Linked DNA regions of Homo sapiens: all the other regions are linked to region 4. The links come from fine-mapping of genetic effects on gene expression. A gene starts in region 4. Each other region holds a variant in brackets. All regions are shown on one strand. Distances are from middle to middle.

Region 1 (5,129 bases), 53 kb after region 4:
AACTTGCCTACCAATGCGGGCTGGATTCACACTTAGCCAGACGTCTCCAATAATGCTCCCAGCCCTAGCAGAACCCCAGTTGCCCTCCGAATGGTCACTGGATTTGTCCCTTCCTATCTTCTCTCCTTCTCCAAACCCGGCCCCATAATCCTGACCTTCATTTCTGCTAGCCCTGGAATCCTATGATTTGCCCTGCTCTTCTTCAGCTCCTCCCAACACTGCAGATGTCTTTGTTCTCCTATGCGTTTGGTCCTCCTCCTGCCCCTCAATCCAAGGGTCCATCAGTTTCATGCAAATTAGGATCATATTCTCTTCATGACCACTCATCCTAGAAGGGAAAGCTTGCAAATGTGCAGATGGGTTTGGTGTGAGGGTCAGGATGGACAGAGAAGTGCATTTATTCAGTCCAACATTTTCTAAATACAAATTACATTTTTTAAAAAAGGAAATTAAAATAACAATTAAATACCATTTCCCCATGGCAAAGGCAAGCAAAGAATGACCGTATACCCTGAGTAGGTGAGGAATATAATTTGGTAACATCTTTCTGGAGAGCAATTAGGCAATGTATTTCAAAAGTGTTAACATTTTCACATTTTCTTTATCCTAGCAATTCCACTCTTAGGAATTTAATTGAGAATAAGAACAAAGATTTACAAGCTTGTCATCACAGTAATTGCCTGGAAATAGTGAAAAAATTGCAAAAGATCTAAGTATTCAAAAATAAGGAATTGGTTGAGTAAGTAGAGACATCCCTGTATAGGTTTACTCTGTAGCCATAATGGATAATATTGAGAAATCTATTTATGGTCAATGAAAGATGTTTGTCATATATTATCATATAAAAAGCAGATTATAAAGCACTATGTACAGTATTTTACAATGAGTATTTAAAAACTTTTTATAGAAACAGGGTCTTGCTCTATCACTCAGGCTAGAGTGCAGTGGCACAATCATAGCTCACTGACGCCTCTGACTCATGGGATCTGGTGATCCTCCTGCCTCAGCCTCCTGAGTAGCTAGGACTACAGATGTGTGCCACCATGCCTAGCTAATTTTTAATTTTTTTTGTAGAGATGGGATCTTGCTATTATTGTCCAGGCTGGTCTTGAACTGCTGGTCTCAGGCAATCCTCCTGCCTCAGCCTCTCAAAAGCACTGGGATTATAGGTGTGAGCCACTGGGCCTGGCCATATTTGCACATTTTTAAAGTTTCAAAAGATATGTATCAATTTATACACTAGTATCTTGGTGTTTGGAGGTTACAAGTTATTCTCTATTTTCTTTTCTTTTTTTTTGTATATTTTCTGATTCCTTTATGGTTAATGTGAATTAGTCATGTAATTACAAGCCATTTTAATTTGCATTAAATTACTAGTAACACATTTTAGGCTTTGGGAATTCAAAAAATGAATAAGAGAAGGAGAAACAACATTTATTGAATTTTTTTTAACATTTTAGGCAATGAGCTGAATCCTTTGTATAATTTAATTCATTTAATTTTTACCATAATTGCATGGGATATTATGTTTCCAGTTTACAGATAAGGGAACTGAGGCTCATAGAAGATTAGAAACTAGCCTAAGATTGTACATTCAGTGGGATTTGAAACCAGATCTGACGCCAAAGAACTTATCGATATTCATACAGGTTTAAAATTTTTCCATGACACCACAGGAGCTTGCAGTATTAGAGGGGCTCAGAACCCACAAACCCAAAGACTTCAGGTCCAGGCAGACCCAGATCAGTGGCTCATGAGTGAGACAAACATAGGGTCATGGAGATGCATAGAGGGGAGATCTGGCTGCATAATCAGGGAGTGAGATCTGATGTGAACTTGATGTCAGATTTCAGGAATCAGCAATTGAGGCTAGAGCTTTTCCCGAAGGCCAAAGAATGTGGGTGCAGTGGCAAGGAGGAAGAGTAGGGACAGATGGGTTGTCTGGAGTAGACGTGGGGAAGTTTCTGACACAGGCAGTACTGGACAAGGTTGTCTGCACGAGGTTTGTTGATTCATATTTCACGGTTAATCTCTTTGCATTTATTTATTTTATAGCATTACCACTTTTGTGTCATTGATTTTCACTTCTGAGTTTGCCTATTTGTTTGAAATCTCTTCATCTCATTTCTATTAGTTTTTATACTCCATTGAGCACTTCTCAGTGAGTGAGCATTTTCACTTCACACTCATCAAAGAGCCAAATGAGGAGAGGAGACACCCTAACTGCAGGGATTAGGTAGTAGGCTTCAGAGGCAGTGACCAAGCAGGATCCCTGGTAGGCCACTCCCTCTCCTCTGCTACCTGGAAGCAGAACAAGGCTGGATCTCACCCTTCTGCTACCTGCATTTAACTAACTAGGAAGTCATATGGGTTATATTTTAAAATATATTTTAAAAATATGTATCTGACAAATGCATTTCATGATCCTAGATTGGATTCTGGGTTGGAAAAAATTACTATAAAGTACATTGGCAAAATTTGAATGTAGGCTATATATTGTATAATAGTTTGTTATCAATGCTAAATTTTCCAAATTTGTTAATTATACTGTAGTTATATAAAAAGATCCTTGTTCTTAAAAGACAGATGCTGAAGTATTTGGGGTTAAGGAGCATGATGTCAGCAACCTATTCTTAAATGGCTAGGCAAAACCAATAATAATGTGTGCATGTGTGCAGATTATCTATTTATCTATCTATCCATCTATCCAACTATCTAGAGAGAAATAAAACAAATGAGGCAAAATATTAACGACTGGTAAATCTAGGTTAAAGGTATGTAAATGTTCATTGTATTCTTGCAGCTTTTATGAAAGTTTTTTTTTTTTTTAAAAAGGTTAACAATTTCTCTTGAAGACTTCTGCTTCTGGCCAAAGTGGAGTAATAGGTTCA[G/T]ATTTGCCCTCTTGCCTGAAACAATAACAACAACAACAACAAACACAATAAAGATATATGAAGGAATGGTTTTCAAGACATGGACATCAGGTGACAAATGACAGTGATTCCTGGGAGTTGAGGAGAGTTTTACAATTGCTCCAGCTTACAGCCCTGAAGAAGTTCCTAGGGCACAGTTCAGGAAGGTGGAACCCAGATGGAGCCTGGAAAATGCTCTGAGTTGAGGAAACAGAGATAAGAGTATGGGGAGACCAAAGCAACTAGAGTTTGCAGGATAGATGATGGAGAGGAGAGAGGTGCACAGAGAGAGCCCAGGAGATCCTCAGGGGTCTCCTCAAGATCGGTTCAACTAAGTACCAATCAGCACATGTGTGTGAGGAAACCATCTGCGAGGATTAGAAGCAGCGCTGCTCAGTGCTCACTCAGGGCTGAGAACAGTGCCAGTTCCCACCTGCCAGATTGGAAAGTCCCATGATTCCTGGGGCACTCAGTAGTTTGTACAGAAGGTCCTTGCCTCAGAAGTGGGCAATAAATAACCCTAGACTGAGCACTTCTCAGCACCCTTGAAAAAAAAAATCATAAAATCAAAACCTGAGGATCCAACTGTTTCCAAGTAGTTTAACTTATCCCAGAGCAAAGTTCAAAAATATATATAGGAATCCAAAAATATTTAACACCCAGCAAAGTACATTTACAATGTCTAGTATCTAAGCAAAAATTACCAGGTATGAGAAGAAGTAGAAAAATATGACCCATATTAAAAAGGAGCCTAGGCTTTTCCCCTCACTCAGCTGTGATGAGGCACCCCAACCCTTCCTTGCTGGGGTGATGTGCCCTGTAATGACCTTCTCCTCAGTGATTATGTCAGTGAAGGCCATGTGGGGACCTGGAACTCTCACCCTCACCAGCTGTAATGAGACACTCTACCCCAGTGGAGTGTCCACAGAGGCCAAGTGAGGACTGTGGACTTACACAACCACCTGGCAATTATGAAGCAGCAGTCCCCTTTCCTGACTGGCACAGTGTCAGACAGGGCCTGCTAAAACAGAAAATTTAAATAAGATATAATGTCTTATATAATTCCCCCAAAGCCCAGGAATTAATAGAAAATCACTCATCATGTCAAGAACCAGGAAAATCTCAACTTGAATGAGAAAAGACAACAAATGCCAATGTTGAGATGACACAGATGTTGACAAAAATTTTAAAGAAACCATTATAAAAATGCTTCAATGAGTAGTTATAAACATGCTTAAAACAAATTTAAAAATAGAATGTCTCAGCAGGAAAACACAAGACATAAAGAGGAGCCAAATAGGCTGGGTGCGGTGGTTCACCCCATTAATACCAGCACTTTGGGGTGCTGAGGTAAGAGGATCGCTTGAGCCCAGGAGTTTGAGACCAGCCTGGGAAACATGACAAATTCCTGTCTCTACAAAAAACACAAAAAGAGCTGGTGTGGTGGTGCGTGCCTATAGTCCCAGCTAACTCAGGAGGATGAGGTGGGAGGTTGGCTTGAGTCCAGATGGCAGAGGTTGCGGTGAGCTGTGATTGCATAATTCAAGAAGCTAATGAACCTCAAACAGAATAAACTGAAAAGAAATCCATGACAAAGCACATCATAATCAAACTTCTGTAAAACTAAGACAAGACAGAATGAGAGAAATGACACCTTGCACAGAGAGGGAAAATAATTTGAATGACAGAAATTTTTCATCAGAAACTGTGGAGGCCAGAGGGAGGCATCACACATTTTTCAAGTCCTGAATGAAAAGAACTGTCAGCCCAGAATCCTAATTCAGTGAAAATGTCATTCAGGAATAAAAGGGAGATTGCCTAGCTATATTAAAACATTATAATTTAGCCTAATGTAATTTTCTAGGCAGTTTCAGTCAGTTTTTTGCTACTCTCTGATGTTCAAGATAGAAAAAGTTATTTTACAAGCAAGCTGAATACAAAATAATGGAAATAGTTTGTAAAACCAGTATATATTATATGCCTATATTGCACATGTTAAAGCACTCCATTATAATACAGTATGTAATCTACTGTTTTTGAACGGTTTTGTTCAGCATTTGGCTATTTAAAAAATATTTATAAAGAGATTTATTTCTTTCAGTTCTGGAGGCAGGAAAGTCCAAGGTTGAGGGGTTCACATCTGGTGAGGGCCTTCTTGCTGTGTCATCCCATGGCAGAAGGTGGAAAGGTAAGAGGGCATGTGTGTATATGTGTGACGGG
Region 2 (5,000 bases), 550 kb before region 4:
TCTATAATCAGCACATAGAGTTTATAATAAAAAGGAAACTCTTTTTTTTTTTTTTTGAGACGGAGTTTCACTCTTGTTGCCCAGGCTGGAGTGTAGTGGCATGATCTTGGCTCACTGCAACCTCCATCTCTGGGTTCAAGCAATTCTCCTGTCTCAGCCTCCCAAGTAGCTGGGATTACAGGCGCATGCCACCACGCCAGGCTAATTTTTATATTTTTGGTAGAGACAGGGTTTCATCATATTGATCAGGCTAGTCTCGACCTCCTGACCTCAGGTGATCCACCCGCCTTGGCCTCCCAAAAGGAAACGTATTTTAAGAGCAAAAGGAGGCTGAGTGTTTAGAACAAGGAAGATAATGGTGGACGGTCTGAGCTTCACTGGGCAACGTGGTGCTGTGGCGTCAGTGCTATGCCAGAGGGCAGAGCAAGCCTCCAGGTCCTGGCCAGGCCCCTTGCCAGGTATCTCATCTCCTCTCAGCCTTCTTAGGATCATAGGAGATAATGTGCCTTGAAAGTTGATGAGTGGACTGTAAATGCTGGTGATACTGTTGCCCCGTGAACCAAGATCAATGTGCTTTCCACAAACTCTTGGAAGTAGTAGTGGCTGGTATTGGGATTGTGTGGGGAAAGATGAGGTCATGTGTTTTGGGTGCTCAGACCCCTCTCTCCCAGCACTCGGTCCCCCAACCCCATGTCCTCTCTCCCCCACTGCTTGGGGCAGGTCTGCACCCTGACCAAGGAAGACAATCGCTGCGTGGGCAAGATTCCCGAGGATGAGCAGCTGCATGTTCTCCCCCTGTACAAGATGGCCAACACGGATGAGTTTGGTAGCGAGGAGAACCAGAATGCAAAGGTGGGCAGCGGAGCCATCCAGGTGCTCACCGCCTTCCCCCGCGAGGTCCGACGCCTGCCCGAGCCTGCCAAGTCCTGCCGCCAGCGGCAGCTGGAAGCCAGAAAGGCAGCAGCCGAGAAGAAGAAGATTCAGAAGGAGAAGCTGAGCACTCCGGAGAAGATCAAGCAGGAGGCCCTGGAGCTGGCGGGCATTACGTCGGACCCAGGTGTGTGGGGGGAGGGTGCCCGCTTGGAGTCACAATGGCACTGTCCTCATGGGGGCCCCTGCTCTTCCACGCACCCTCCTGCATCACACTGGAACTGGGGCCTCTGCTTAATTGTCAGTCAGAAGGGTATCTGCAGCAGCCACAGCCAGCCTGATAGGAGGCCGTGGGGATGCAAGTACAGCAGGACTTGTTATCTGCGTGGAAGTGAGCTTGGTAGAGGGGAAGCACTGGGTTTCTCCTCTAGTTTGCATCCCTCAGAGAATCAGAGGCTCCCCTCTGAGCTCTAGTTTGCTCCCCTCTGAGATACTGAGGTGAGTAGCAGCACTTCAGGACATGTGGGTGTGTGCCAGGGCAGCAGGGCTTATGGGCGGAGACGGTTGCTGGCAGGCATCTGAGTTCTCATTCTCCTGGCCCTGGTCCCTGCAGTGATCCCGACTGGGCTGGGCACAGAGTGGGTGGTGGTGGTTCAGTACAACTTCTGGAGTTCTCTAGGGTGAAGAGAGGAGTCGGTGGGGGTACTGTGGACCCCGCATGAGGTGCTTCTCAGCAGGGATCGCCTCCTCCCACCCCCAGTGGGGCTGGGGCTGGGGCCTGTGCTGAGCAGGGCCCAGGGAGTACGACCCGTTCTGGGCTGGACATGCCTCAGCACCTCACCTGCCTGTCCCAAAAGAGGAAACATCCCTGGGAAAGAGGGAGGGTCCATCCCCAGTCCCCGACCCAGGGCCTCTCCAGGCTGTGGTGTTGTCTGCCCCTCTGCCATCTTGCCTTCTGTTTCCCCAGGCCTGTCTCTGAAGGGTGGATTGTCCCAGCAAGGCCTGAAGCCCTCCCTCAAGGTGGAGCCGCAGAACCACTTCAGCTCCTTCAAGTACAGCGGCAACGCGGTGGTGGAGAGCTACTCGGTGCTGGGCAACTGCCGGCCCTCCGACCCTTACAGCATGAACAGCGTGTACTCCTACCACTCCTACTATGCACAGCCCAGCCTGACCTCCGTCAATGGCTTCCACTCCAAGTACGCTCTCCCGTCTTTTAGCTACTATGGCTTTCCATCCAGCAACCCCGTCTTCCCCTCTCAGTTCCTGGGTCCTGGTGCCTGGGGGCACAGTGGCAGCAGTGGCAGTTTTGAGAAGAAGCCAGACCTCCACGCTCTGCACAACAGCCTGAGCCCGGCCTACGGTGGTGCTGAGTTTGCCGAGCTGCCCAGCCAGGCTGTTCCCACAGACGCCCACCACCCCACTCCTCACCACCAGCAGCCTGCGTACCCAGGCCCCAAGGAGTATCTGCTTCCCAAGGCCCCCCTACTCCACTCAGTGTCCAGGGACCCCTCCCCCTTTGCCCAGAGCTCCAACTGCTACAACAGATCCATCAAGCAAGAGCCAGTAGACCCGCTGACCCAGGCTGAGCCTGTGCCCAGAGACGCTGGCAAGATGGGCAAGACACCTCTGTCCGAGGTGTCTCAGAATGGAGGACCCAGTCACCTTTGGGGACAGTACTCAGGAGGCCCAAGCATGTCCCCCAAGAGGACTAACGGTGTGGGTGGCAGCTGGGGTGTGTTCTCGTCTGGGGAGAGTCCTGCCATCGTCCCTGACAAGCTCAGTTCCTTTGGGGCCAGCTGCCTGGCCCCTTCCCACTTCACAGATGGCCAGTGGGGGCTGTTCCCCGGTGAGGGGCAGCAGGCAGCTTCCCACTCTGGAGGACGGCT[G/C]CGAGGCAAACCGTGGAGCCCCTGCAAGTTTGGGAACAGCACCTCGGCCTTGGCTGGGCCCAGCCTGACTGAGAAGCCGTGGGCGCTGGGGGCAGGGGATTTCAACTCGGCCCTGAAAGGTAGTCCTGGGTTCCAAGACAAGCTGTGGAACCCCATGAAAGGAGAGGAGGGCAGGATTCCAGCCGCAGGGGCCAGCCAGCTGGACAGGGCCTGGCAGTCCTTTGGTCTGCCCCTGGGATCCAGCGAGAAGCTGTTTGGGGCTCTGAAGTCAGAGGAGAAGCTGTGGGACCCCTTCAGCCTGGAGGAGGGGCCGGCTGAGGAGCCCCCCAGCAAGGGAGCGGTGAAGGAGGAGAAGGGCGGTGGTGGTGCGGAGGAGGAAGAGGAGGAGCTGTGGTCGGACAGTGAACACAACTTCCTGGACGAGAACATCGGCGGCGTGGCCGTGGCCCCAGCCCACGGCTCCATCCTCATCGAGTGTGCCCGGCGGGAGCTGCACGCCACCACGCCGCTTAAGAAGCCCAACCGCTGCCACCCCACCCGCATCTCGCTGGTCTTCTACCAGCACAAGAACCTCAACCAGCCCAACCACGGGCTGGCCCTCTGGGAAGCCAAGATGAAGCAGCTGGCGGAGAGGGCACGGGCACGGCAGGAGGAGGCTGCCCGGCTGGGCCTGGGCCAGCAGGAGGCCAAGCTCTACGGGAAGAAGCGCAAGTGGGGGGGCACTGTGGTTGCTGAGCCCCAGCAGAAAGAGAAGAAGGGGGTCGTCCCCACCCGGCAGGCACTGGCTGTGCCCACAGACTCGGCGGTCACCGTGTCCTCCTATGCCTACACGAAGGTCACTGGCCCCTACAGCCGCTGGATCTAGGTGCCAGGGAGCCAGCGTACCTCAGCGTCGGGCCTGGCCCGAGCTGTCTCTGTGGTGCTTTTGCCCTCATACCTGGGGGCGGGTTGGGGGTGCAGAAGTCTTTTTATCTCTATATACATATATAGATGCGCATATCATATATATGTATTTATGGTCCAAACCTCAGAACTGACCCGCCCCTCCCTTACCCCCACTTCCCCAGCACTTTGAAGAAGAAACTACGGCTGTCGGGTGATTTTTCCGTGATCTTAATATTTATATCTCCAAGTTGTCCCCCCCCCTTGTCTGGGGGGTTTTTATTTTTATTTTCTCTTTGTTTTTAAAACTCTATCCTTGTATATCACAATAATGGAAAGAAAGTTTATAGTATCCTTTCACAAAGGAGTAGTTTTAAATTCCATTTAAAATGTGTATTTATTGGATTTTTTAAAAGCGACAATAGTAATGGTAAAGGATGGGCAGGAAAGGCCAGTAGTGCTCCCCCGCCCAGTCTCGCTGGGTCTGGCGAGCCAAGCCCCTCGGGCGCTGGCGAGGTCCTCAGCCATCTGCCCCTCGAGAGCCAAGCGCGGACGGTAGCCACCCAGTTCATCCCTCCCGACATACACCCCTTCCCTTTGGGGAAGGGAGCCTCAGGACAGCTTCTGTCCTCTCTGATAGGATGGGAGAGTCTGCAGAAAACCATCTGGGGTCCCTTTTCCAGTCCCCGGCTTGGAGTCGAAGGGCAGATGCACCCCAGGCCAGCCCCACGAGATGCTGGCATAGCTTTCCCCAGAAACCAGGTTGGAAGTAGATGGCTTCAAGCTTGCTAGTCTCCACACTGAATCCTCTGTCCGTTATTTATGGAGTCACACGATGTCATGGTTCACTAGGCAGCACCTCACGCTGGAGCTGGAGTGCGAGGTTCTTAGGGGCCGTGCCCACCATGTTGCCAAGCCAATGCATGCTGAGCTGAAGGAATTTGTCTTAGTGGCAGTTTTTTAAAAAATGCCCCCAAAGTCTATGCTGATACTGAAAAAGGGCTACTGTATCTTTAAAAACAGGAAGTTGAACCCAAGCTGTGAAAAGCCAGTGGTGCTCTGTGCATGGTGCTGTGCGGAGCCTGGTGCTGTAGTGTTGTGCTGGGACTTTCTTGACTCTTGGGCAGGTCACATCCTACAGGAGCTCAGCAGACCAGTGTAACAACAGTTAATGCATCTATCCTGATCCCTGAATTTCCACATTGGACAATGGTGCATGCCTCACACCTGAGCCTGCTTCCTCCATGCTGTCATTGGGTTCGGGGGCCTACACTTAACAATTTTAAAGTGCAAGAGTCAAACATTTTCAACAGGTTGCTATAATTTTCCTCCCTAATTGGTGCCATTTCTCCATTTGATCAT
Region 3 (5,129 bases), 81 kb before region 4:
AAGCCACAAAGTATTTTTCAGCTGAGTAGTGGCAGAATCAGTGCTGAATCAGATTAATCAAAAGATTAATCTGTTGGCATTATGTGAAATGGACTAGGAATGGGAAGCACTAAAAAAGCATTGAGACAAGTTGAGAGATTATTGCAGTATTAAAGGAAAGGTTAAAAGGGCTTGAATTAGGATAGTGATAACAGATGCTATAGGGATAGAATAGGCAAGGTGTAATACGTGATTGAGTATTGATACATAGAAAAACATGTGATAGGGGAATGCTTCAAGGAGATTAAGCTAGTGCCAATGTGCAGGGAAAACCAGAAGAGAGAGAGATTGGAGGCAGGGAAGCCAGTTAGGAGTTTACTGAAGAAGTCTTGGTGAGACAAGCAGTGGGAACAGGAAGTAAAGGAGAGTTACAACTCATGTTATGAGTGGAAAATTGATATGACTTAGTGATGGAGTAGGTGTAAAGGGTGAGATGGCTGAAAGTGACTGAGGTTTCAAGCCTGGGTGACTAGACAATGGCGGTGCTGCTATTAACAGAAAGGCAGAAGTTAGAATGAGAAGTTGGCTGGAGGGGAACATTACAGTGAAAAACAGAAGGCAAGAGAGTTAAATATGGAGCTGACTTGAAATCAGATTTTAAAAGAACATATGAAAAAGGTATATGAAAGAATAAAAAACCAAAGATGGAGTTAAAGAAGCATGGCAAACTTGTAAAAATAGGCTTAGGAGGTTAAAACCCTAAATAAGTCTCGTCACACTTAAAAATATTTGTGTTGAATTAATGAGCTGAAGTTTGTGAAAAGTTTGTACTCTATAACATACTGCCATTCAGGATTTTTGCTGCTTGGAGAAAATGTCATGTGAAAAACAAGAAGGAAGAGGCATTTAAACACTGTTTTGCGGCCAGGCACGGTGGCTCACACCTGTAATCCCAACACTTTGGGAGGCTGAGGTGGGCAGATCAACTGAGGTTGGGAGTTTGCGACCAGCCTGACCAACATGGAGAAACCCCGTCTCTACTAAAAATAAAAAATTAGCCAGATGTGGTGGTGCATGCCTGTAATCCCAGCTACTCGGGAGGCTGAGGCAGGAAAATTGTTTGAACCCAGGAGGTGGAGGTTGTGATGAGCCAAGATTGTGCCATTGCACTCCAGGCCTGGGCAACAAGAGCGAAACTCCGTCTCAAAAAAAAAAAAAAAAAGAAAGAAAACTGTTTTGCTGCTGTCTTTTCCAGAATAGGAGAGTGGTCTTTAATCTAGATGAGGTGGACCAAACGGAGTAAAGAGAACAGCAGTACAAGATGAGTAAGCCGTTGTTATGAGTACTGTGCCATTTTAAGTGAGTTCAACTCCGCTGAAGTACAGAAGCATAGGGTGTAAGTGAAGGAGAATTAGCTTCAGTGTTATAGTCTGTATTTATCTGGCTACATCCAGAGTAGGGAATTTAGCAAAGAAGTTAAAAACATGGGCTTTGTAGTCAACAGAACTAGGTTCAAATTCTTTTTAAATTTTCTTTCTTTCCCACCCCCCCTAAGCAGTGTCTCCCTCTGTCGCCCAGAGTGCAGTGGTGCGATCATGGGTCACTGCAGCCTTGAACTCCTGGGCTCAGGCAAGCCTTCCACCTCAGACTCCCGAGTAGCTGGGACTACAGGTGTGAGTCATTGCTCCTGGCTAATTTCTTAATTTTTAATAGAGACAGGGTCTCACTCTGTTTCTCAGGCTAGTCTTGAATTCCTGGGCACAAGTGATCCTTCTGCCTTGGCCTCCTAAAGTGTTGGGATTACATGTGTGAGCTAGGTCCTCAAACTCTGACAAGACTACTTTGGTAGCTGTGTGACCTTAGGTAACTTACTTGGTCTTTTTAGGCCTCAGCCTCCTCCATCTGCAAAAGTTGGGATAACAATCTCTACTTCAGATTATTGTGAGGATTAAATGAGGTAAAGTATGCAAAACACTTGGTTAAGTGACTACCACTTAGTAAATGCTCCAAAATATGGGTATCTACTAGTGACAGGTCAACTACATCCCTGCCCTTTTCCAAGACAGAAGACTAACAAAGAAAAGGTCTCTTCATCTCTACAACAGTGCTTGGCATACAGTGGTGAGTAAATATTTGATAAATAAATAGACAGATAGATAAATACAGATCCTCAAACCCTGAGTTTAGTGGCAGGGAGACTCTAATCTCGTGTATGTAAGCCAGGATGGAAGGGAATACTTTTTCCCATCCTTATTATTACTATTTTTTTTTTGAGACAGAGTCTCACACTGTTGCCCAGGCTGGAGTGCAGTGGCACGATTTCGGCTCACTGCAACCTCCGCCTCCCAGGTTCAAGCGATTCTCCTGCCTCAGCCTCCCAAGTAGCTGGGATTACAGGCATCTGCCACCACGCCCAGCTAATTTTTTATTTTATTTTATTTTTAGTAGAGACAGGGCTTCATCATGTTGGCCAGGCTGGTCTCGAACACCTGACCTTGTGATCCACTCACTTCGGCCTCCCAAAGTGCTGGAATTACAGGTATGAGCCACCGTGCCCAGCCTATTATAACTATTTTTTGAGACAGGGTCTTGCTCTGTCGCCCAGGCTGGAGTGCAGTGGTGCGATCTTGGCTCACTGCAACCTCTGCCTCCCGGGTTCAAGTGATTCTCATGTCTCGGCCTCCTGAGTAGCTGGGATTAGAGGTGCGTGCCACTATGCCTGGCTAATTTTTGTATTTTTAGTAGCTGTGGGATTTCACCATGTTGGCCAGGCTGGTCTTGAACTCCTGGCCTCAAGTGATCCACCTGCCTTGGGCTCCCAAAGTGCTGGGATTACAGACGTGAGTCACCACACCAGGTTATAGTTCCTATAACTTTTCCCCTACTTAGGACATTTGAGTTGTTTCTAATTTTTCACCACTGTAAATAACACCGAGATGAACATGCTGGTACATATATCTTCATCCCTTTCCTGACTGTCTTCTTTGGCTACATTCCCAGCAAAAGGAAAGGGTATCATTTTCCGGAAAATTTACATCCTCTCTAGCAGTGTATTAAAATGTCAATGTATGTTTAAAATATCAAATACTGTAAGAATGTA[T/C]TGAAGCCACCTGGGAGAAATTCCTCCCATGTGATGTATCATCTCAGATTCTGAGGAACTGGGTGGAGTAAATAGTAAACTGAGCTGTTGGGCACTAACAGTTACAACGGCTCCGTTGTCTCTGCTCTGCAAAGACAGGAGATGGGTGTTCTTCAGACAGGAAACAGGAACTCAGTGGGTGGACCTAAAAGGGAGTGCGGGCTTCGAAACAGGAAAAAAAGAAGTCTGCTTCTGATAGTGAAAGAGATGCATTGCTGTGCTGTCCTGATCATCCTACTAAGTCAAACCTTTATTCTATATCTGTCCTTGCATTCTATTTGCAGTTGTTTTAATTTTGCTAAGTGTTGTGTTAGTTTCATGTGACTGCTTTTATTTTTTCCATTTCAGGGAATGACATCCATCTAGTTGTTCAAGTCAGAAACCATGCAGTTATTTGATACTTCCTCTTTCTCACTCCCTATATCCAATCTCTCAACCAAGTTCTGACAATCTTCTCTCTAAAATATTTCTACACTTGGTCATAGCTAAAAGGCCAAGAAGCGATTCTAAAATATTTCTCTAATTGGTTTGCTCATCTCATCTTGACTTCCAATGTTCTAGTTCAAACCACCACGGTCTCTTGACTAGTCTACTGCAATACCCTCCTAGCTCATTTTCATGTTTCCATTTTTGCTTCTGCGAGTTCATTTCCAAATTTCTGCCCAAGTAATATTTTAAAAACTGAAATAGATAATGTTATTTCTCATGATTTGTTTCCCTAAGTCCAAATCCTTAATTTGGCCTACAAAGCTTTGCATGATTTGACCCCTGCTCACCTCTCCAACCCTACCTTTTGTCACTCTCTCCCTTCCTCCCTGTTTCAGTCACAATGGCTTTTCTGTTCTTGATTTTTCTCTCAGCTCTTTCCAGCCTTAGGGTCTTTGCACATGCCTTTCCTTACACCTGGAATGCTCTGCCTGCCACCCTTCACCTGGTTAATTCTCACTTATCTTGTAGGTCTTAGTTTAAATGTCACTTCTATAGACAGGCTTTCTTATAGCAGCTTTTTCTTTTCCTTTATAAACTTCTCATAATTAAGAATATATACATTTCTGTTTCTTCCATTGGAGAGTGGGTTTCTTAAGGTCATAGGTAATGTCTTTTAGGTCACTACAGAATATATATCTAGGGCTTGACACAATGTCTGGCATAGACTAAATGCTCTTCATTTAAATGAACCATAACGTCTATCAGTGTTAGGAAGGAAGTAGGTTTTAAAATACAGGTACGTACGGAAAATTCCCTGTTGCCATTTAAATGTTAAGCTTGCCAATCGGGGATTTTCAAGTTTAGTGTTGTATAACTGAATTCAGGAATTATTCTCTATAGCATGAAACCAACAAAAGGCAAGTCATATTTACTCCAAATTTCAGAGTATTTCCAGTTTTTTCTGTCTTCTTGAGGGTTGAGGCAGATTTAGGATTGGGCAGAGTTAGTTAGCTGCTTTTCTGTGGTTGGTACTTTAAAAACGATTCTTCTTTTTCACCTGGGGACATGGGTACTCACCAGCAGGCTGTGACACAAAGCATGGAAATGTTGCTGATTTGTCTCCAGCTCATCCCAGTCCAGCTGCCAACAGCTTGTAGGTCTGAGGATGAACGGGAGTCCATATGTCAATGACTCGCAGAGCCCGCTAGATTTTAAAGCCCTAGGAAGAGATAATTACAGTCAAAGACTCCTTAGTGATATCTAGAACCTCCACCTAGATCCACTTCAATTCAGCTTAACTCTAAGACAGTACTGTGAAAGCTTTTAAATTAGTGTCTGTGAACTATGCATCTTTGTATGGCCAGCATCTAGCATAGTATCTAGCACACAGAAGATTGTCAAAGTTCAGGAACCTGTGCATGGGCACAGTGGTAGGAACTGGGAAGAGTTGAAGCAGACTCTGCCATTATTGCTAATTCATTGTGTTTTTTTGTTTTGTTTTGTTTTTCTTTCAAGATAAGGGCTTGCTCTGTTACCTAGGCTGGAGTGCAGTGGTTCAATTAACTCACTGCAGCCTTGAACT
Region 4 (5,129 bases):
CCTGAAGTAAAGATAAATATAATGTAAGTATGACTTTGTTAAAAATTTAACTCACTAATATGTACATTGGGTACATGAATGCATGTACTTAAGTGCAATTAGGTTGCACAATAAGAACCTCTTATTGTATGTTTTGTGAAAAAAATTGAAAAAATATTAAAAAAATCAAAAGACAACCAATAAGTCATGTTCAGAGAAGGGACTAAGGCCTAGACTAGACTGCTGAGAAGCAGCTTAGGAAAGGCATATAGTGGGCTAGAGGAAGAAACTCAGACGGGGGGCAGGGGTTCCATTGTGTTGAGGTTGGTTTTAGAAAGAAGATTTCAGAGAGAAGATTAGAAGTACTGATCCCAAATGCCTGATTTTCCCTCTAGGCTAAGCAATTTGAATTCAAGGACAATGGCTTTTTTTTTTTGGCAGGCTAGAGTGCAATGGTGTGATCGTAGCTCCCTGCAGCCTTGAACTCCTGGGCTCAAGTGATCCTCCTGCTTCAGTCTCCCAAGTAGCTGAGACTACAGGTGTGTGCCACCAGGCCTTGCTATTATTATTATTTTGCAGAGACAGGGTCTTGCTATGTTGACGTGGCTGGTCTCGAACTCGTCTTCAAGTGATCCTCCTGCCTCAGCCTCCCAAAGTGCTAGGATTACAGGCATGAGCCACCATGCCCAGCCAACGGACCATGTCTTAATCTTATCTCTAGTACTTAGTAAAATGCCTGGCACATATTAGGCCCTTAATAACTGTTGAAAGAACAAACTAGAACTAGTACTTGCACTTTAGAAAGATTATCCTGATGGCAGTCTGGAAGGGGAGGGACTGGAGGCTAGGTTTTTGTTTTTTAAATGAAATTATCACACAGTCCAGGTGAATGATGATGATGTCCTGAACTATGATGATAATGGAAAGAAAAGGATGGATTTAAGTTACTTTTTAGTCAGATTTATAAGGACATAGTGATTTCTTACATATGGGCATGGTAGCTAGTCTCCAAGAAAGGAGGCTGAAATCCTTGTATTCCCAGTGAAATCCCTGTACCACCTGGTGAAGTCCCCTTCCACAGTGCATCAGGGCTGCCCTGTGTGACAAGTAGAATATGGCCGAGAGATTGTGTGTTACTTCTGAGGCTAGGTCACAAATATATCATTTGCTCTTTTGCCTTGTTCTTTTGGATCACTTGCTCTGAGGAAGTCACCCCATTTTGTGAAGACATTCAAGCAGCCCCATGGAGAAATTCATGTGGAGAACAACCTTCACTTACTGCCAACAGCCACTACCAATTTGGCAGGCATGGAAGTCCGCCATCTTGGAAGTGGATCCTCCAGCCCCAGGCAAGCCTTCAGTGGACTGCTGCCCCGTTTGATATCTGGACTGTAATCTTGTGAGAGACTGGAAGCCAGACCACCTAGCTAAACTACTCCTAAATTTCTGACGCAGAGAGATTGTGAGAGATAATAAAAGTTTATTCCAAATGTCTGATTTTCCCTCCAGGCTAAGCAATTCGAATTCAGGGACCATGTCTTTTGTTTGTTTGTTTTAAGCCACCAAATTCTGAGGTTAATTTGTTACATTTGTTTTGCAGCCTAAATAACTAATACAATGGGGGTGAAAGAGGAGAAAGCAAAGACTACCTACTAAGTGCAGACTAAGTGCTTGAAGAAGGAGCTAGGGGCCGGGCGCGGTGGCTCACGCCTGTAATCCCAGCACTTTGGGAGGCCGAGACGGGCGGATCACGAGGTCAGGAGATCGAGACCATCCTGGCTGACACGGTGAAACCCCGTCTCTACTAAAAATACAAAAATTAGCCGGGCATGGTGGCGCGCGCCTGTAGTCCCAGCTACTTGGGAGGCTGAGGCAGGAGAATGGCGTGAACCCGGGAGGCGGAGCTTGCAGTGAGTCGAGATCGCGCCACTGCGCTCCAGCCTGGGCGACAGAGCGAAACTCCGTCTCAAAAAAAAAAAAAAAAAAAAAAAAAGAAGGAGCTAGGGTTGGGATGGAGGAGATAGTGAGTTATCCTCAGGACCTATGCTTGCCTTGTTTATAGGATATCCAAGTGGATATGCCCATAGGCAGTCTTTGTTCCTCGCCCTCAAAGGCCTACCAACCCTAGAAGAATCAGTTCAAATGTCACCTCTTCTGTGAGGCCTTCCTGATTTCCTCTGGCAAAACCTGGCCCTTCTGCACACTTATTGCACGTTATTATAGCAAACGTGCATTGCTTCGTATTGCAATTATCTATTTGCAGTTATTTGCTTACATTTGGAAGCCCCATTACAGTGTGAACTCCCTAGGGCAAGGGCCGTGATTTTTAGTATTTTCTGTATAATCGTGTGTGTGTGTGTGTGTGTGTGTGTGCGTGTGTGTGTGCGCGCGCGCGTTACACTGTGCCTGCCCAGCACATAGGCAGCCGTCCTTAAATGCTTGCAAAGTATTAATTTTGAGAAACTTGGTGCGTGTATCCACGTCCTCTTATTAGTAAGTTTTCCTTATTAGTACAGCTATGGGCGTTTGAGTTTTTGGAGTGGCCGGAGCAAACTCGCCACTCGAGGTCCCTGAGTGGCAGCCCCAGCGCACTTCCGAGGCAGAACTCCCACCTTCACCTGGGTCTAGCTCCGCCTCTGCCTGGGTTAGGCCTCTCCTCCCCTCAGCCCCGCCTTCACTCAATCCCGATTGGCTGGAGGAAGAAGGAGGCCCGACCATTGGCCCCTTTCTGAGGGGGCGGAGCCGGGCGGTGTTTCATCCCTCAGCCTCAGGCTGAGCCGGACCGAGCCGAGAGGACCCGAGTGGGGCCGAGGCCAGTAGCCCCGGGGCCCTGAGCAGAGGCCGTAGCTTGCGCCGCACCCGCGGCCAGGCGGAGCCAAAGATGCCGGCCTCTGCTGCGCGGCCCCGCCCGGGTCCCGGGCAGCCTACAGCCTCGCCCTTCCCGCTACTGCTGCTGGCGGTGCTGAGCGGCCCGGTATCCGGCCGCGTCCCCCGCTCGGTGCCCAGAACCTCGCTTCCAATCTCTGGTAAGGCGCGGACGCCCACGCCCTCAGCCCTTCGCGCCCACACCCACACCCACACCCACCTGCTCCTCAGACCGCTCGGCCGGACCCGGGCCTCTCAGCCTGGTGTATGGCGTTTCACGCCGCCCACGCCCCGCCGGGACCGGGGCGAGATCTTCGCACTTCACCGCATCCTCTCTGCATCCCTCCCGCGCCCCTCAGCCCCTCATCCCCAGCCCGGGCCTCGCGCCTCGGCTCCCACGACACGCCCAGGCTGCACCAGCGGGCCCTATTCCCGGAGCCGCAGGAGCGTCCAGTCCTCACCGTGCAGACTCGGACACTGAGGCCCAGAGCTCGGGTGGGGGCTGCCCGAGGTCGTTCATTTCGAAGTTCCGTCTCCCTTAGTCCCCTGTTTCCCCGCACATACACCTGGGTCCATCATTCCAGCTTGACGCCCACTCTGCTTTCAGACCCATCAGTCTTTCATTCTACTCCAGCTTTCCATTCCGATCTCCAGGTCAGCATTTCCATCTTCTCCAATTCATTTCCCTATCAGTTCTATACATCATCCGAGCCTCTTGGCCCTTCTGACAGCCCTTCCCGCTCCCCTGACATCTCTGACAGCAGCTCCCATTCTCCCATTATTGGATCCACGTTAACTCTCTTAACTTCCTCAGTGTTCCTCGCTGCCTCTGCCCATTCCCTACATTGAATATTGGTAAACCATTCAATGTGTTGATGTAAAGTTCTGCTTAAATGATTTTTCAAGTCTTCAGAAGGAAAAATAGAGGAGGGGGATATGATCCTTTGAAAAGATGTGGAAGAAGCTAGGAGACGTCACAAGGTTAAAAGTGATCATTGGGGCGATTCACATTTTAGACTCTGCTGAGGTGGGTATGAGCATGGCCGTGGACCTTGTTGTCTTCTCAGTGGGCATTGAGTGTTATTAGCACCTTGGGCAGACAGAACCAGTGAAGCCAAGAGTACAACCTGTTGGCAACAACTCTGGACTGGTTAATAGTAGTTTAGAGTTTAAATTCAGACTAGTGCCATATAGGGATGCTGTGATTCCAGAAGGCGAAGTTGTGGCCAGAGCCTGGGGTTTCAGTTTGCACCCAAGCAATAGCCACAAAGTAAGTTGAGATTGCCAGGCTGGGTTGATGTCCAGGCATCCAGAGATGTCTAGATGGCAAGCAAGGTGAAGCAGAGTTGAGGATGTGAGGGGAAGTTAGGTGATCCAGGGCTTATACTAAGCATGAGAGAGTGGGCACAGAGGTAAGTATGGGTGTGGGAGGAAGGAGTGGGCGGGACTCATCAGTACATCTAGGAATGAATGGGTTGGTGTCCAGTCTGCAGTCTTGAGGGTACTGAGCAGAGGAAGCAGGTAGAGCAGAGCTGTATTGGTGCAAGGGTAGGGTCCCCAGAACCAGAGGTTGAGCTAGGAAGGTAAATTCATGCCAACTTATTCCAGTCTTTAAATAGATACGAATTTTGAATGCTAATATGAGGTTTAGATTTTTTTTTTTTTTGAAGCGGAGTCTTGCTCTGTCACCCAGGCTGGTGTGCAGTGGTGTGATCTTGGCTCACTGCAACCTCTGCCTCCCAGGTTCAAGCAATTCTCCTGCCTCAGCCTCCCAAATAGCTGGGATTACAGGTGCGCGCCACCTTGCCTGGCTAATTTTTTGTATTTTTAGTAGAGACGGGATTTCACCATGTTGGCCAGGCTGGTCTCAAACTCCTGACCTCAAGTGATCCACCCACCTCAGCCTCCCAAAGTGCTGGGATTACAGGCGTGAGCAACCGTGTCCAGCTAGTGCTCTATTTTTATAGAAAAAGCATACTTACCCACTGGATTGTGTGCTAAATATTCTGGCCTCATCTATCTCTGGTTCACTTGTCAAGGCTGTGTTTCTCCCCCATGGCTGCTTAATAAATGGTACTTGGAAGAAAACAAAAATTGGCCCCTTTGGTTTTGCTCTTGTGGACTTGACCCTTAGGAAGCGATGGCTAACATCACTCTCCTCTCTTCCTGCCAGAGGCTGACTCCTGTCTCACCCGGTTCGCAGTCCCTCACACATACAATTACTCTGTTCTCCTTGTGGATCCTGCCTCCCACACACTTTATGTTGGCGCCCGGGACACCATCTT
Region 5 (5,129 bases), 40 kb after region 4:
GAAAGGAGACACTGACTGATAGGAAGCTGGTTCTGGATAGATGAGGGATGATTATGCCAATATTTTTCAGAGTCCCAAGATGATCAAGGCCAGCTTTGATCTCAGTCTACTGAGTCATGCTGGACGTATATATGGCTCGGTCACTCCATTGCTGCAGCCATTGGAATGCTCCTGTCGGGGGTAACAGTGTCCAGCCTTACGGAGCAGGCCTGACCACCCTCCGATGGTGTGGTGGGCACTGGGCCAGGAGGGAAGCTGGTGGGGTGTGGGGCAAGTACCAGGCAAAAGAAGTACCAGGCTCTAGGGGCAGACTGCTGGATTATGACTCAAGTTGACGCAGGAAGATAACAAATCCAGTCCTCTCCCCAGAGGAATTGAGACCTAGGAGTGGCCTTCTCACAACTTCAGGGTGCAGGGTGGAGAATAAGTAAGGATCAGATGCACCACACATACCAGCAGCTTGTGCCAGGCAATGTGCCTAAGATGAGGTGGGGAAAGGCAGACACAGAGTTCATGAAATGTGGCCAACAGAAACGAGGTAGCAGAATCCACCCAACTAGCTGTCTGAAATACAAGGCAGGGACCCAAGGGAGGAAACACATATGGGGGACATTTAAGGTCCCAAGAGACCGGGGATGAGGTGACAGGACCTGGTATGCTCTGCCTATGACCTTCAGCCCCATTGTGGGGCTGAGAAGCCTGGCATTTGGAGGCTTCAGACTGCCACAGGGATCTCCAAATTCACCCACTGGGGAGGCAAAGGCTTCTGTTGGATGTGTGGCAAGGAGGAGCCCTCTTCACTCAGGCAAGGTGGGCAGGCTTCAGAGGGCTGGGAGTTCTTTGCAAACAGCTAGGATAGGGCTAGGACTGGGTATGAGTACTGAGGACAGGGGCCATGGTCACCTGGGAAATCAAACCCAGAGTAAGCTTTTTTGGAGCCCACAGATCTGAGGCTTCTGTTCAGAGGGGCAGGGACCAGGCAGAGCAGACCAGCTTGGTTTTTCACAAAGGTGGGAGTGAGTTGGAAAGTGGCCTTAGGTCACAAACACTAGCCACTTTAAGAGAAATGCAGCTCATCTCACTGACCTTGAAATGAGTTTTGCATGTGCACACACGAGTGTGTTTATTTGTGGGTGAAAGAAATTTATCTAAACAATTACATACATATGCTCGTAATAAAGCATTTAGGACATGCTGAAAAGTAAATAAAAATAAGAATCACTTCAAAACCCATAGGCCAGAGATACAATCTGTAAATATATTTTGGTGGATTTCCTTTCAGACTTTTCTCTATGTATATATTCAACATAGGGATATAAATAGATATTTTCAATAAACATAGTATGATACTATTTTGTAAACTGCTTCTTCCATTTGATACTATATCTTGGGTACTTTTCCACAATAAAATGTTATTCTATATCATCATCCTGCATAGGATTCTGTTGCTTGATATTTCTTATTTTAACTAACCTTCCATTGATTAACATCACATCATTTGAAAATAATACATTTGTTTCTTTCTTCTCTTTCTTATTTCAGCATGTTGGCTGGAACTTCCAGAACTGGCCCAGACAGAACTCATTCTTGACTTGAACCTGATTTTATAGCAGTGCCTTTAGTATTTCACCATTGTTTTTCACACTTCCTCTTGGTTTCTAATAGGTTTGTAATACAGAGGGAGTCTTTGCATTACCTCTAACACTAACAGGGTTTTATATTTTTCTTTTAAGAGGATAGGATGGATGTTGAATTATGTCAAATATCTTCATAAGCAGCCAGTAAGATGATGGTATAGTTTTTCTCCTTTAGCCTGTGAATGTCCTAGTGCTGAAGCCACGTTGGTTCCTAAGATCATCCCTGTGTTAGTGGTTTTGCAGATCGGGAAGGTGAAGTTGTTGCCTTGAAAATATTTCAGAAAAGGTAGCATGCTTTATAACCTGTGCTATACCTGCTCTTTTTAACTGTAAATCAAGGAAATTGTCCTCTATCAGTTCATAGGGTGTTTCCTCATTTTTTTTTTATTGCTACAGTGTTCCTTTGTGTGGTTGTGTCATAGTTT[G/A]TTTATTCAACCAGTTCCCAGTAGTGATAGATATTTGAGGTGTTTCCAGTCTTCTGCTGCAGTAAGCAACCCCATAAATCCATTATTTTGTAGGTGTGTGGATATACTTTAAAGTAAATTCTCAGAAACGGGACTGCTGTGTTAGAATGAACCAGGAAGCTTTCAGCCTTTTAGAGATAGATTACTAACAGATAAACTCTGATAGACTCAGGTAAACAGAGTTTAGACAACTTGGCTATAATATATTCCTATGTTTGATAAAACATCTGCAGACAAGACAGTTGAGCCTGGAATTGCTGCACGTGTGTGTGCATGTGTGTGTGCGTGCTTCTTTCATACCTTTTATGCTTTCTTCTTGATATTCATGCTTTCTCATAGCGATTCACATCCTTCAGTCTCTCATTTTTTTTAATGCACTTAGATTTTCCAGCACATGATGGAAGCAAGGAAGGTGATGAAATCATTGTTAGACATTGAGCAGCTTGGGGCCAGACACCTTGGCAGGTGCTCTGAGTATATTATTTCGAACTCTCATTTCAACCACACCAAGAGCCCTTTTGAACTCTTTTTACAAAATGAGGAACCCAGAGCTCAGTTTGCTCAAGGTCCCCAGCTAGGAAGTAGTAAATGCAGAGTTTGAAGCCAAGTCTATCTGCTCCACAGCCATATCCTCTTTATTAGCCACACCCATCCAGGATTTTTCCCCCAGCGTTCCTATTCCCAGTCATTCCCAGCTAACAATGAGTTGGGAAAGACTGATGCGTGGTGACATGTCCTAATAGTTAAAAACAATACCATTCAGCTTCTGGCTTATTCTTTTAAATAACAGCTCTGTGTTGCTATCTTCATTTTGATGCCAATCAGGTAAAATTAACAAACACTTGTGGAACATCTTTCAGGTGGAAAGCATGAGGCTAGTTGCTGTAGGGAATACAGAAGTGTAAGTCAAGACTTATGCTGGACAAGCTGAAGCTTAGTCTTGCCAAGCAATATGTACATTGACTGGTTAATGTAGCCTGTTTCTTTTTAGTGCTGAATAATATTCTATTGTCTGGATGTGCTGCAGTTTATTTATCCACTCGCCTCCTAAAGGACATCTTGGTTGCTTCCAGGTTTTGGCAATTATGAATGAAGCTGTTATAAACATACATGTGCAGGTGTTTTTGTGGATATGTTTTCAACTCCTTTTAGTAGATACTGAGGACTGTGATAGCTGGGAGGAGAATTTTTTTTATTATTTGAAATTTTGTTTTTGAACTAAAATGGTTTTTAAGGAATAAAAAGAGGAAAATTGTTGTGCTGGGATCTCTGCGTGTCTCAGCAGGTTATAGCAACACTGTCCACAACAGCATCAGACACTCAGCCAGATGTGAGTCGAGTTGCCTCCCGTGTAGCTGGGAGCAGACTCAATTGCAGAGCTGGTGTCTTATACTCGTAGAGCTCCTCTATCCTCCTTGAACCTTCAGGCTCTGTCTCCATGCTTCTCACACAATGATCTCCTTTGCACAACCTCAGAGCACAACAGTGCTTCTTTTCTGCACAGAGCACTCCCCTGTCTGGACTTTTGTCGTCCTCAGCCTTGCCTTTTTCTCTCCAAATGTAGCAGAGCAGTTGGCTCACCTTGTTTTCCATATCCTCTACCCATGGATTTCTGTTATCCCTACTCCCTCATCCCTACAACCCTCAACAGAAGTAAATCCAAATCAATGAATAAAACAACTGGACTTTGTCATATAGAGGGTAATTCCCCAAGAAACAGGACGCTGTATTAAACTCTTTCAAAAGAGTAAATGAGTTACCTTTTATATGACCAAATTGCTTTCTAAAAGGACTAATCCAAGTTAAAGTGCAAATTTAAAAGCCTCTGAATAAAGCCTAAGAGAGAAGTACATGGCATGGACGATTGACAAATATAATCCAAGAGCAGGAAGTAACCAGATATGAATTGTGAGATGCTGGGAATTCTCCCGAAGTTGGTGTCAAACATACTCATTAAACTTGATACTGTCTGTACAACGAAAGGGCACAGAAGGGAGTGGTAATACAACACAGGGTGCGATCCAGGAAAATACCTTATTTATAGAAGAGCAAGGCTGTAAGGGACTGAGAGCATACAGGGCCACCCTAGTCTCACAGCTGAGCAAATTCAGGGAAGCCAGGGCCCCACCTAAAATCAAATCTGAACCTCTGCCACCTAGTTCAGCACTCTTTGCCCATTTAGAAGGCATTCTGAAGTGATTTTGAAAAAATCTTTATTAATTTCTTTTTTGCAAAGTTAAAATATTCATGATTAAAAATATATATATAAAAGTTTGTATACTGAAAAACATCTCTCCTGCCTCTTTTTTTTTTTTTTTTTTTTTTTTAATTGAGACGGAGTCTCACTCTTTCGCCCAGGCTGGAGTGCAGTGGTATGATCTTGGCTTACTGCAACCTCCACCGCCCAGGTTCAAGCGATCCTCATGCCTCAGTCTCCCAAGTAGCTGGGACTACAGGTGCCTGCCACCATGCCCAGCTAATTTTTTTGCACTTTTAGTAGAGACGGGGTTTCATCATGTTGGCCAGGCTGGTCTCAAACTCCTGACCTCAGGTGATCCACCCACCTCGGCCTCCCAAAGTGCTGGGATTACAGGCATGAGCCACCGCGCCCGGCCCTGCCTCTCTTATTAATTTCTTCTGTACCCTTCTAGTGTTTCTTTGTGAAAATACAATCAAATATAAAAATGTGGGAAGGGGGTGAGGGATAAAAAAACTACCAGTTGGGTTCAGTGTACACTGCTCAGGTGATGGGTGCACCAAAATCTCACAAATCACCACTAAAGAACTTACTCATGTAACCAAATACCACCTGTTCCCCAAAAACCTATGGAAATAAAAAATATTTTTAGAAAAGAAAGAAAAAATTAAAATATTAAAATGCATTCTTATTTCCATTATTTTTTACATAAACAATATATCAAGGAGATCCTTCCACATAAGTGCATAGAAAGTGTCCTTGTTCTGTTTTAAATTATTGTGTTGTAAGGCTGAATCATAGTATATTTAACTAATCTCTATTTATGGACCC

Direction of the effects. Alleles are on the strand shown, and positions count from the first base shown. SD is a standard deviation of normalised expression in the study named. Not every link is listed here.
With allele C in place of G in region 2, the expression in fibroblasts of the gene that starts at base 2,731 in region 4 is higher (moderate effect, 0.69 SD a copy in GTEx).
As copies of A replace G in region 5, the expression in whole blood of the gene that starts at base 2,731 in region 4 goes down (small effect, 0.15 SD a copy in GTEx).

Evidence for each region. PIP is the estimated chance that this variant, and not a neighbour inherited with it, causes the effect.
Region 1: its variant is fine-mapped to the expression of SEMA4F in whole blood (TOPMed, PIP 0.98).
Region 2: its variant is fine-mapped to the expression of SEMA4F in fibroblasts (GTEx, PIP 0.99).
Region 3: its variant is fine-mapped to the expression of SEMA4F in lung (TOPMed, PIP 0.97).
Region 5: its variant is fine-mapped to the expression of SEMA4F in whole blood (GTEx, PIP 0.92).

What each region holds. Positions count from the first base shown.
Region 1 is chr2:74,704,676-74,709,804 of GRCh38, forward strand. It overlaps a transcript of SEMA4F not described here. Among named protein-coding and RNA genes, the nearest start is that of SEMA4F, 53 kb to the left of the region's middle. The variant G/T (reference allele first, on the strand shown) is at 2,892.
Region 2 is chr2:74,098,556-74,103,555 of GRCh38, forward strand. It overlaps TET3 (tet methylcytosine dioxygenase 3), which reads left to right. Exons shown (of 12, transcript NM_001287491.2): 11 at 721-1,057; 12 at 1,838-5,000. The coding sequence ends at 3,621. Among named protein-coding and RNA genes, the nearest start is that of BOLA3, 47 kb to the right of the region's middle. RefSeq lists an enhancer at 895-1,394. The variant G/C (reference allele first, on the strand shown) is at 2,757.
Region 3 is chr2:74,570,814-74,575,942 of GRCh38, forward strand. M1AP (meiosis 1 associated protein) reads right to left here. Exons shown (of 11, transcript NM_001321739.2): 7 at 4,625-4,766. Among named protein-coding and RNA genes, the nearest start is that of DOK1, 19 kb to the left of the region's middle. RefSeq lists enhancers at 334-433, 1,431-1,640. The variant T/C (reference allele first, on the strand shown) is at 3,080.
Region 4 is chr2:74,651,517-74,656,645 of GRCh38, forward strand. SEMA4F (ssemaphorin 4F) reads left to right here and starts at 2,731. Exons shown (of 14, transcript NM_004263.5): 1 at 2,731-3,005; 2 at 5,018-5,129. The coding sequence starts at 2,861. RefSeq lists a silencer at 2,578-3,007.
Region 5 is chr2:74,691,782-74,696,910 of GRCh38, forward strand. It overlaps a transcript of SEMA4F not described here. Among named protein-coding and RNA genes, the nearest start is that of SEMA4F, 40 kb to the left of the region's middle. The variant G/A (reference allele first, on the strand shown) is at 2,063.